Linked DNA regions of Homo sapiens. The protein of the gene in region 1 purifies or fractionates together with the protein of each later gene. This does not show direct contact. Each region holds a gene or a part of one and is shown in the gene's direction. Other genes may lie near its edges.

What was found.
Region 2: the proteins of STXBP6 (region 1) and XPNPEP1 purify together in Homo sapiens (affinity purification with mass spectrometry; one large-scale study listed by BioGRID and IntAct). This does not show direct contact.
Region 3: the proteins of STXBP6 (region 1) and ALS2 purify together in Homo sapiens (affinity purification with mass spectrometry; 2 studies listed by BioGRID and IntAct, with this or other methods). This does not show direct contact.

Annotation. Positions count from the first base shown.
Region 1 is NC_000014.9:24,816,133-24,819,785, reverse strand, and holds part of STXBP6 (syntaxin-binding protein 6), read left to right. Parts: exon of another isoform or gene 1-591; coding exon 592-749; exon of another isoform or gene 750-796; intron 797-892; exon of another isoform or gene 893-1,428; intron 1,429-3,653. UniProt on the Homo sapiens protein: Forms non-fusogenic complexes with SNAP25 and STX1A and may thereby modulate the formation of functional SNARE complexes and exocytosis.
Region 2 is NC_000010.11:109,916,954-109,920,606, reverse strand, and holds part of XPNPEP1 (xaa-Pro aminopeptidase 1), read left to right. Parts: intron 1-3,653. UniProt on the Homo sapiens protein: Metalloaminopeptidase that catalyzes the removal of a penultimate prolyl residue from the N-termini of peptides, such as Arg-Pro-Pro. Contributes to the degradation of bradykinin.
Region 3 is NC_000002.12:201,770,890-201,774,542, reverse strand, and holds part of ALS2 (alsin), read left to right. Parts: intron 1-3,653. UniProt on the Homo sapiens protein: May act as a GTPase regulator. Controls survival and growth of spinal motoneurons.

The DNA of each region.
Region 1 (3,653 bases):
CTCTGAGCTTTGAGACTGGATCATAGCTCTTACATGAAGCTGTACATTTTGGGGTGTTCTTTACTTGCTGGATGAAGGGGTAAAATGAAGAAGAAGCATTGGAAGGAATATAGAGCATTCTATCTAGAAAAGTTCTGTGGTCCCAGTTTTCCTATGGTTATTCACCGAAACCACAGGTCAAAAGGAAATAACATAAGATCCAGATATGTCTCATTGAACTTGCCTAATTCTGTGAACTTGTCAACGTTTTCATTTATCTTTGCAAGCCAAGTTGTAAATCCAGACAGGCCCCATCCTTTTGAGCCTCCACAGATAGAATACTGGCAGAATGGAAATGACTGGCATGTCAGTGATGAGTTTATAGAGAAGCATTTAGGATTTTCCTAGGTCCTGCAGTCAGTGGGTGTTCTTGCTGCAAGTGCGTCAGTCAAACCCAATCAAAAGAAATGTCGGCTTGTTTCCTAGACACTAGACGAGCGGCCTTTCTGCAGTGTGACCTGCCTTCCTCTTACAGGATACTCACCCTGCCGGAGTCTGGTCACTGTGGGTCAGCTGAGCCAGTTTCTGATGCTCCTGCTCTCCTCCTTTCAGGAAACAGCATCCTCCATTCAGCTGCTGACAGCGTGACCAGCGCAGTGCAGAAGGCAAGCCAGGCCTTGAATGAGCGTGGAGAGCGATTAGGCCGAGCAGAGGAGAAGACAGAAGACCTGAAGAACAGCGCCCAGCAGTTTGCAGAAACTGCGCACAAGGTGGGCCAAGAGAGGAGCAGGCTTCTCAGCTCTGGGGTGTTGGGGAGCTACAGTGCCAAGAAACTTTATTTCAGTATTTTCCTGTGATGAGAGATATAAAATTAAGCTATTTCCCCTTTATGTAATTCCCATCTGCTACTTACTAAACACCTGAGTCGTGGAAAATTTCTTCTTGTACCTGGTTTCTTTGGCTCTTTTCTAATGTCCTCAGCCGTATCTCTGACCTTCTGACCTTGGATCTTTAGGAACTATGGACCATCTTTAGTTCCTGCTCAGAAGTTTAGGGCTCAAGTATCGAGGCACAGAACAGGGGGTCGGGGAGAAGAGATCAGGTCTTCGAATATCCCTGCCCCACTTAGCCAACACATGGAGGACGTGAGGCTGCTCGTGCTTGCTTTTCCATCCTGTCCCTTTCTCATCCTGAGTGTAGCAGTGTGTCCTTATCTCTTCACCAGACACAAAGCAAGCCCCAGTCCCAGGGAACTACGCACCTCGGGGCTAGTTTTCCCTCGGAGAGGGGTCGATTGTTATTTCAGGGCCTCAATTCTGGGGCTCTGAGCTTGACCGGACCAGCGCTGAGCTGTCAGCAATACTCCCTGCTGCCCCTGAATCCAGAGAAGGGCATTTCCTGCGTGACTGAGTGCGCACTCTGCACATTCTCATACTCGCTGAGAACTGTGCCTTTTAGAAGGGAAAGGGGCAGTTTTTATTGGCAGCCAGCTATCTAAGGCAGTCACAAACCAAAGGAAAGAGAGGCCCTGTTGGTCAGGTGATAAAGAGGATTTATTACTGTTGTTGTGCTTCAGATCAAAGGGCAGTTTTTTTTCTGGTTAGTGGTTTGAATTTAGCCTTCCAGAAACAACATCTGCTGATGACTTGTGTTGGCATGTCAGGCTTATGATCTGGCCCTTCAAATACACTTTTCAGGTGACCTTTCGGGGAAGAAAATAACTGGCTTTAACAGAAACACCACTTCTGCTGAGGAAACAAGGATGGATAACCTAAAAAGCAATGAGAAGAATATTCCCAGCTGAGTTGCGGTGACCTCTTCTGGAGGCTCACGCTCAGGTCCAGCTGGGGATCCAGCTCTAAGTGGATGACTCCTGCCTTCTCTTCCTGCATCCCCTTTGCACAGCGCTGTCTTGTCATCTCATTCATTCTCTGTCGTGACAGGGTCTTACTGCACTGTTGCCCGTGGGGCCCATTTCGAGTTCCTTCAAGGAGAATTGGCTAGATCTATCTGAAAATGCAGACAGCCCTGCTGGAGGCCAGAGCCTCAGATTGCTGCTGTTGGTGCAGAGGCAGAGAGTGAACTTGGATTGAAGGTCTCCCTAGTTCCTTCCTCCTTTCTCCAGCCTCTGTGACACAGAGATAATGATGACATGGAAATGCTGGCATTACAGCCTCAGCTTCTTTAACAACAACAGCAGCTTCCGTGATTTCAGTGGGAGACGGATAGTGGAAATCTGGGGAAACATTTAAGTTGTTGAGTTGGGTAGAGGAGGCTAAAGGGAATAACTTTATAACAGTCTTCAGTTCTGGGAAGGGTGATGGTACAGGCATTTTTCTTTCATGTCTTCCCACACAGAATAGAGCAATCAATAGTGCACTGATAAAATTCTGCTAAAACAAGAGTTTAGGTTAATGATTAAACCATGAACCAGGTTACCAAGGAAGATTGTAAAATTGCTCTTCCTAAGGTGGCATAGACAATACCTGGATGTCGTCCACGTAGGCGTCCCTCCCAGAGGGGGCTGTACAAACACTGGATTGGATAACCTAACCAGATGGCCTGAATTCTTGGCCCTGGTAGCCCTGTTTCCCTGATACTGTGGCCAAGTTTGCGAGGCAATTGGGAAAGCAATATGGAATAGTAGTTAACATCTTGTGTTTGAATATAGCGCTGTCATTTACCATCTTGGTGACCTTGGGCAAATGCTTAATTTCTCTAAGCCTCAGTTTTCTCATCAGTAGAATAGAGCACTATTCTTTATGAGAATAGTACCTACGTACTAGAGTGTTCAGAGAATTGAATGAGTTCAAAGCTATTAGCACAGTATGTAGCACATATAAATCTAAATTACTATTATTTGTAATCATTTTCATAAATTTTTTTTCTACTGACCCTGCCCTATTCAGTCACATAATGAGCACTGTAGAGGGATTGGAGAATTGATACTGGTGATTGAGGATCCTCAACACAGGGACAGGGAAGGAATGGAGGAGAAGATTTTGTGCCTCCCAAACCCAAAGGGAAAGGGGTGTGGGAGGGCCCTCATGCTAAATGTTGATACTATCTAAACACAGATCAGCCCTTGAAACAGGACCCATCAGGATAGAAACTAATGCGGCCACCAAAGGCAAAGGGGTCTCTGGCTTGACCAGTGGGAAAATTTATGCCTAGCAGTTACCTGCTTTCACTCGGGAGGGGTGAGGCGTGGACAGCTTGTGTTTATTTTGGTTTCCCCTCCCTCAGGTCATCTCGGGGGGAAGAGGAGGGGTTACTAGTGTCTGTTAATGTGTATGAGAGTGAGAGAGTGTCATGGCCAGACTTGCAGTTGTGTGAAACTGGGATGTGTGCCTATGAATCACTGGCACTGGCAGTATTCCTAACAAGCAGATTGACCTCTTTAGATAAGGTGTGGCTATTTTCCCAGGGACCAGGACTCTTGATTTGGACCTGCTAGCATAGGCTGACCATGAAGCTGTCATTTTACTGGACAAGCCACAGCCAGGCCTGCTGGTGAGGGGAGAGTTCAGAGATGGAACCCAAGCATTCTACCCCCTAGACAAGCATGGCTCTGTTGACTCAGAAGGAGTAAGCTGTGCTTACAAGTGGGGGCCAGAACACATGGCAGAGTCCTGAGCTGAAAATGGCAATGCCAGGTGGCAGCTCCTAGAGCT
Region 2 (3,653 bases), on another chromosome or scaffold:
TAAGATTGTGCCACTGCACTCCAGCCTGAGTGACACAGCAAGACCCTGTCTCTAAAAAAATGATAACCTTCCACCTCTGTAGTCATGTGTCTGAACCAGTCATTGGGATCAGTTACTTACCATCTTAGAAACTTACGTATGAAGTAATGGGAAATTCGGTGAGAATCTGACTTGTATCCCTGTCCACAAGAAAGAGATGTTATAAAATTTATAATGGCTTTATTGAGATATAATTCACTTATATACAATTCATCTGTTAAAATGTACAATTCAAGTTATTAGTATAGTCACAGAGTTGTACAACTATCATCACAATCATTTTAGAACATTTTCTTCATCCCCGAAAGAAATCCTGTTACCTGTAATCAGTCACTCCTCACCTCAGCCCTTGGCAACCACCAACACTGCATGTCTACTTCCTGTCTTTACCGATTTGCCTATTCTGGACATTTTATGTGAATAGAATCATATACTATGTGGTCTTTTGTATTAGGCTTTTTCCCTTAGCATGTTTTCAAGGTTCACCTATGTCATAGGTGTGATTTCTTTCTTTTCTTTCTTTTTTTTTTTTTAAATGAGACGGAGTCTTGCTCTGTTGCCAGGCTGGAGTGCAGTGGCACGATCTTGGCTCACTGCAGCCTCCACCTCCCGGGTTCAAGTGATTCTCCTGCCTCAGCCTCCTGAGTAGCTGGGACTACAGGTGTGCACCACCACACCCAGCTAATTTTTGTATTTTCAGTAGAGATGGGGTTTCACCATGTTGGCCAGGATGGTCTCTATCTCTTGACCTCATGATCTGCCCGTCTCAGCCTCCCAAAGTGCTGGGATTACAGGCGTGAGCTACCGCGCCTGGCGTGATTTCCCTTTATTGGCAAAGAACATTCCATTATATGGATAGACACTTTTATTTATCCATTTATCAGTTGGGCATTTGAGTTGTTCCTACAGTTTGGCTGTTACAAATAATGCAGCTGTGAATATTTGTGTACAACTTTTTATAAGGATATATATTTTCAATTTTCTTGATTGTGTACCTAGGAATGGTTTTCCAAAGCCATTACACCATTTTACATTCTCATCAGGAATGTTTGAGGGTTCTAATTTTTTCTATACCCTCACCCGCACTTGTTACTGTCAATCTTTTTTATTATAACCTTCCTAGTGGGTGTGAAGTGGTATCACATTGTGGTTTCGATTTGTGTTTCCCTAATGACTAATGATGAGCATCTTTTCATGTACTTCTTGGTCATTTGTGTACTTTTGCTGGAGAAATGTCTATTCAGATCCTTAGCCCATTTAAAATTGGGTTATATGTCTTTTTATTGTTGAGTTATAATAGTTCTTTATATATTCTGGATACTAGACTCAACAGATTTACAGATGTTTTCTCCCATTCTGTGGGTTGTCATCCATTTTCTTGATGGTATCCTTTGAAACACAAACATTTTAAATTCTGATGAAGTCCAGTGTATCTCTTTTTTCTTTTGTTGCTGTGCTTTTTGATTTGTGTCTAAAGAAGTCATTGCCTAATCCAAGGTCAGGCAGACTTATGGTTGCGCTATAAGAGTTTTACAGTTTAGCGCCTACGTTCATACCTGTGATCCATTTGGGTTAATTTTTTTTTATTTTCTTTCTTTCTTTTCTTTCCTTCCTTTCCTTCCTTTTCGTTCTTTTTCTTTTTTCTCTCTCTCCTTCCTTCCTTCCTTCCTTCCTTCCTTCCTTCCTTCCTTCCTTCCTTCCTTCCTTCCCTCCTTCCTTCCTTCCTTCCTTCCTCCTTTCCTTTCTTTCCTTTCTTTCCTTTCCTTCCTCTCCTTCCTCTCCTTCCTTCCTGTCTTCCTTTCTTTCTTTCCTTTTCTCTTGCTCTGTCGCCCAGGCTGGAGTGCAGTGGCCCGATCTCAGCTCACTGCAAGCTCCCCCTCCTGGGTTCACACCATTCTCCTGCCTCAGCCTTCCGAGTAGCTGGGACTACATGCGCCCGCCACCATGCCTGGCTAATTTTTTGTATTTTTAGTAGAGACAGGGTTTCACCGTGTTAGCCAGGATGGTCTGGATCTCCTGACCTCGTGATCTGCCCACCTCGGCCTCCCAAAGTGCTGGGATTACAGGCGTGAGCCACCGTGCCCGGCCCATTTGTGTTAATTTTTGAATATGATATGAAGTGGGTTAAACTTCATTTTTCTTTTTTTGAGACAGGGTCTCTCTGTGTCACCAAGGCTAGACTGCAGTGGGGCGATCACAGCTCACTGCTGCCTCAACCTCTCTGGCTTAAGCGATCCTCCTGCCTCAGCCTCCTAAGTAGCTGGGACCACAGGTGTGCACCACCAAACCTGGCTCATTTTTGTAAATTTTGTAGAGATGGGTTTTGCCATGTTGCCCAAGCTAGTCTCGAACCCTGGGACTCAGGCAGTCTGCCTGCCTTGGCCTCCCAAAGTGCTGGGATTACAGATGTGAGTCATTGTGCCTGGGCTTTTTTGTTTTTTTGTTTTTTTTTTTGAGGCAGGGTCTTGCTCTGTAACCCAAGCTGGAGTGCAGTGGTGCTATCATGGCTCACTGCAGCCTTGACCTCCAGGGCTCAAGTGATCCACCCCACCTCAGCCTCCAGAGTAGCTGAGACTACAGGTGCACACCACCATGCCTGACTAATTTTTGTATTTTTTGTAGAAACGGAGTTTTGCCATGTTGGAAACTTTATTCTTTTGCATGTGGATATTCACTTGTCCCAGCACCATTTGTGGAAGAGACTATTCCTTCCCCATTGAATGGTTTTGGCATCCTCAAAAATCAGTTGACAGTTGTGAGGGTTTATTTCTGGACTGTTAATTCTGTTTTACTCATTTGTAAGTCCATTCTTATGCTAGCACCACACTGTCTTGTATTTAGGTTTGAAATTGGGATGGAAGAGTTCTTTTCAAGATTTTGTTCTTTTTCAAGATTGTTTTGGCTATTCTGGGTCCCTTGCATTTCCATATGAATTTTAGAATCTGCTTGTCAGTTTCAACCTCCAAGCTAGCTAGAATTTTGGCAGGGAATGCATTGAGTCCATAGATCAATTTGGGAATTACTGCCATCTTACCAATAGTAAACCTTCCAATCCATGACCATGGAATAGCTTTTGTTTATTTAGGTCTTCTTCAGTTACTTTCAGCAGTCTTTTTTAGTTTTTGTGGTGTACATTTTGCACTTCTTTTGTTAAATTTATTTCTAACTATTTTTTGTTTTTGATATTGTAAATGGACTTTTCTTAATTTTATTTTTGAATTGCTCATTACAAGGATATAGAAGTCAAATTGATTTTTTAAATATTGATTTTTGTATCCTGCATTCTTGATGAACTCAGTTATTAGTTCTAATTTTGTTTGTGGATTCTTTAGGATTTTCTGTATTCAAGATTATGTCAATTGCAAATAGAGATAGTTTTACTTCTTCTTTTCTAAACTGGATGCCTTTTGTTTCATTTTCTTGCCTACTTACCCTAGATAGAACTTCTGGTACAATGTTGAATAGAAATGCCAAGAGTAGACATCCCTGTCTACTCTGCCAAGAGTAGACATTCCCTAGATTATAGGGGAAAGCATTCAGTCTTTCAGCATTAAGAATGATGTTAGCTGTAGGTTTTGTAATAACTTTTGTCAGGTTGAGGAATTTTTCTTCTA
Region 3 (3,653 bases), on another chromosome or scaffold:
ATTTTTATTTATATCCTGCCTTCTTCCCAAAAGGATTTAAAGCAGCTTACAAAAATGTATAGCAGGGTGGGATAAAATAAAGAAACAGACTATACAACATGCATACTGTGAAGTCCTCTTCACTTCCAGGTACCATCATATGGAACCCTTATCCTCCCACCACAAAATGTATAATTCTGCTTATATCTGTACCTGTGATCTCTCTTCTTTCAAAAACGTAGACCTTTCTTCTTATGAAAAAAACAATCCCCCCACATATATTCTGGATGGCATCCTCCTTCACTTTGTCTGGGACTTTGGCTCTGCCCACTGTCCTCATCATCCTTGTATCCAGGACCACAGCCTTTGTCATGCAGACATATTCAGCTTCCTCCCATCTCCCCAACCTCCAGCAAAAGAAAACCCTTCATTTTCACATTCCCCTTCAGCTACTGCTCCATTTCTTTGTTTGCCATTTCAACATTTTTCAAAAGGATCACCCACTGAAAATAAAGATATTTCCACATTGTCACCTCCTGTTTATATTCAGCTTACTTCAATCTGGTTTTCAGTGCCCAAACAAACCACTGAGATTGTGGCCATGCTCAGCCGTTACCTGTGTTGGCAAATCCAATGGACACTTTAGTTATCTTACAAGACCCCAGCTGCCTTGACCTAATTGACGTCCTCCCTGAAGTGCTTTCCTTTGCTTTCATGTGCCCACGGCAGACCACTTCTCAGTCTCAGTCCTCTTTGTCCGATCCTCATCCTATCCAACTTCCAGGCGCAGGAGCTCCTTAAAGCTTGACACTGCGCTTTCCTTTCTCTTTCCATATACCCAATGACATTATCTATTGTCTTGTTTTTAAACACTATCCATACGCCCTCCCAAGTTTAGCAGCTGCTGAGACTTTTCTCTTGAACTCCATGTTCATATATTCAGCTATTCACTTAATATGTACTCTTGGGTTTCTCACAGACATCTTGAACTTAAAAATAAATTTTATCCTACCAGAATCTTATCTTTGCTTCAGAATCGTATCTCCCTCACTCTTGCCCATTTCAGGAAATGGAGCCACCAACACACAGCTATTTGAGGCAGAACCAGGGATCATTTCTGATACCTGCTTCTCCTTGGTCCCCCACCTTTGTCTAATCACCAAGTACTAGTTGTTCTGCCCCCAGAGCATCTCTCATTTATTCACCTCTTCTTCACCAAATTGGCAGCATTGTATGAAACTTAAGAACCCAGGCTTCCTTCCTCCATTGAGAAGATGAGCCGATGGAGTATTTGCAGGCAGGATATTCCTTGCAAAAATTCATTTTGGTGCTCCGTGAGTGTTCACCATAAAATTGGTTTAAAACTTTTGAAACAAATGTAAATCGTCATTGAAATAAATCATTGGCCCTTCGCATTGGCTCACGCCTGTAATCCCAGCACTTTGGGAGTCCAAGGTGGGCAGGTCACAAGGTCAGGATTTCAAGACCAGTCTGGGCAACATAGTGAAACCCTGTCTCTACTAAAAATACAAAAATTAGCCAGGTGTGGTGGTGTGCACCTGTAATCCCAGCTACTCGGGAGGCTGAGGCAGGAGAATCATGTGAACCCAGGAGGTGGAGGTTGCAGTGAGCTGAGATCATGCCATTGCACTCTAGCCCAGGCGACAGTGCAAGACTCCATCTCAAAAATGAAAAAAAAAAAAAAAAAAAAAATCATGAAAGCATCCATAGACTGTCCCACTGGAAGCAATGCAACTCCCCAGTGTACTCTCCAAAATGAAGTAAATGTTCAAAGTACATAAAAGAAACCAAGTTAAGTATAAAATAGTTAAAAGTTTTGAGACTTCTACTAAAAAACGATAGTTGTTTTTGAATATAGATTCCTGGTCCTTTATTCAAAACCCTTGGGGCAAGGTGCATTTTGGAATTCAGATTTATGTTTTGTTCTTTAGAGTAAGATGCATAAACTATATATTATATAACACTTCCTGTGGGATCTGTGGTGCTGCCCTATTCATACTGATATTTCTACAACACGATGTATGAATATTCACACTAAAGGGATAAAAGTGATAAATAACCTCATATCAGTTCAGGTCAGATTTTGCTGTCAGATGAGTTCAGGTCAGATTAGATTTTGCCACCAAAAGTGTTATTGAAAAAACTTTTAATTTTCAGAGCTATAGATTTCTGGTTAAGGTATTGTAGACCTGTAAGATGGTTGTAGCTCATCTTTCTAACAGTTGGGACATCTAGACTAGATTGTTGTTGTTGTTGTTGTTGTTAAGGGCACTTCCAGATCATGGTATTAAAATGATATCCTTGGCTCGTACAGGACAACTTATTTCTCTGTTAGATGTAACAGAAGGATGTGTATCCAGTGGAGTCTAAAAGTGGCATCAGTTTATTAAGAAGCAAGGTTTGCTCTTTGTTTAAAGGGCCCCCTGGGGTTTTGTTACTTTACATATCACTGTGAAGGAGATAATAATTTGAAGGATAGAGTGGTATGCTTTAAAGTGAATCTAGCTGTGTCCTGCGGTTCAGAAGACTGAAGTCTGGTTTGCTCATTTTACGGAGATGCCATTTATCTGTGGAGAGGCCATGCAAGGTAAGAGAGGGTCCCACAGTAAATGCTGTTTATGCAACATCACATGGCTTCTTTATCAGAGCTGGTTAACAGGTCTATGCAGGAAAGTTACTGTAACAGAAGAAAAGCAGCAGAGTACAAGGATCTTGCCCTCTTAAGGAATGATAAAGACCTTAAAGCTTCTCTGGAAGAAATATCCCCAGAGGAAGTTTTATGATTAGGCAATTTTATAAAAACTTAAAATGTTAAAGCAATGAAATAACATACAGAAATTTGAATGCTATTTGACTGGTTGAGGTGAGTCTTAATAGATTTCCTGGAGAGACAATCATAAAAATATTAGAAAGACAAAAGTTTTTCATTTACTTTCTTTTCCTGGATGGATACGTAATTGAGAAAGAATGTTAGATTAAATAGAGTTGGTAAATACCACCCTTACTTAAGTATATGAGGATAAAACTTTAATAACATAAGATCCCCACATTTAGTTGCAATATTCCTTTTTAGTTATGTTTCCTCAGCAATCAGTTTTCTTCATTGCCCTATTGGAGTTTCAGGCAGACGTATCTTGTTGGAAGATGTCAAACATATTAAACACCATTAAAACAAAATGAGATAGGGGCCGGGCGCGGTGGCTCAAGGTGGCTCATACCTGTAATCCCAGCACTTTGGGAGGCCGAGGCAGGTGGATCACCTGAGGTCAGGAGTTCGAGACCAGCCTGGCCAACATGGTGAAACCCCGTCTCTACTAAAAATACAAAAATTAGCTAGGCGTAATGGCGGGTGCCTGTAATCCCAGCTACTCGGGAGGCTGAGGCAGGAGAATTGCTTGAACCTGGGAGGCGGAGGTTGCAATGAACCGAGAGCGTGCCATTGCACTCCAGCCTGGGTGACAAGAGCAAAACTCCGTCTCAAAAAAAAAAAAAAAAAAAAATCTGTAAATACTGATGTAAAAAGATGTCTGTGAAATAATATATTAGTTTTCTACTGCAGCTGCAACAAATTGTTATGAACTTAGTGGCTTAAAATAACACAAATAAATATATTATCTTCAAGTTCTGTGGGCTGAAAGTCTGTCACAGGTCTT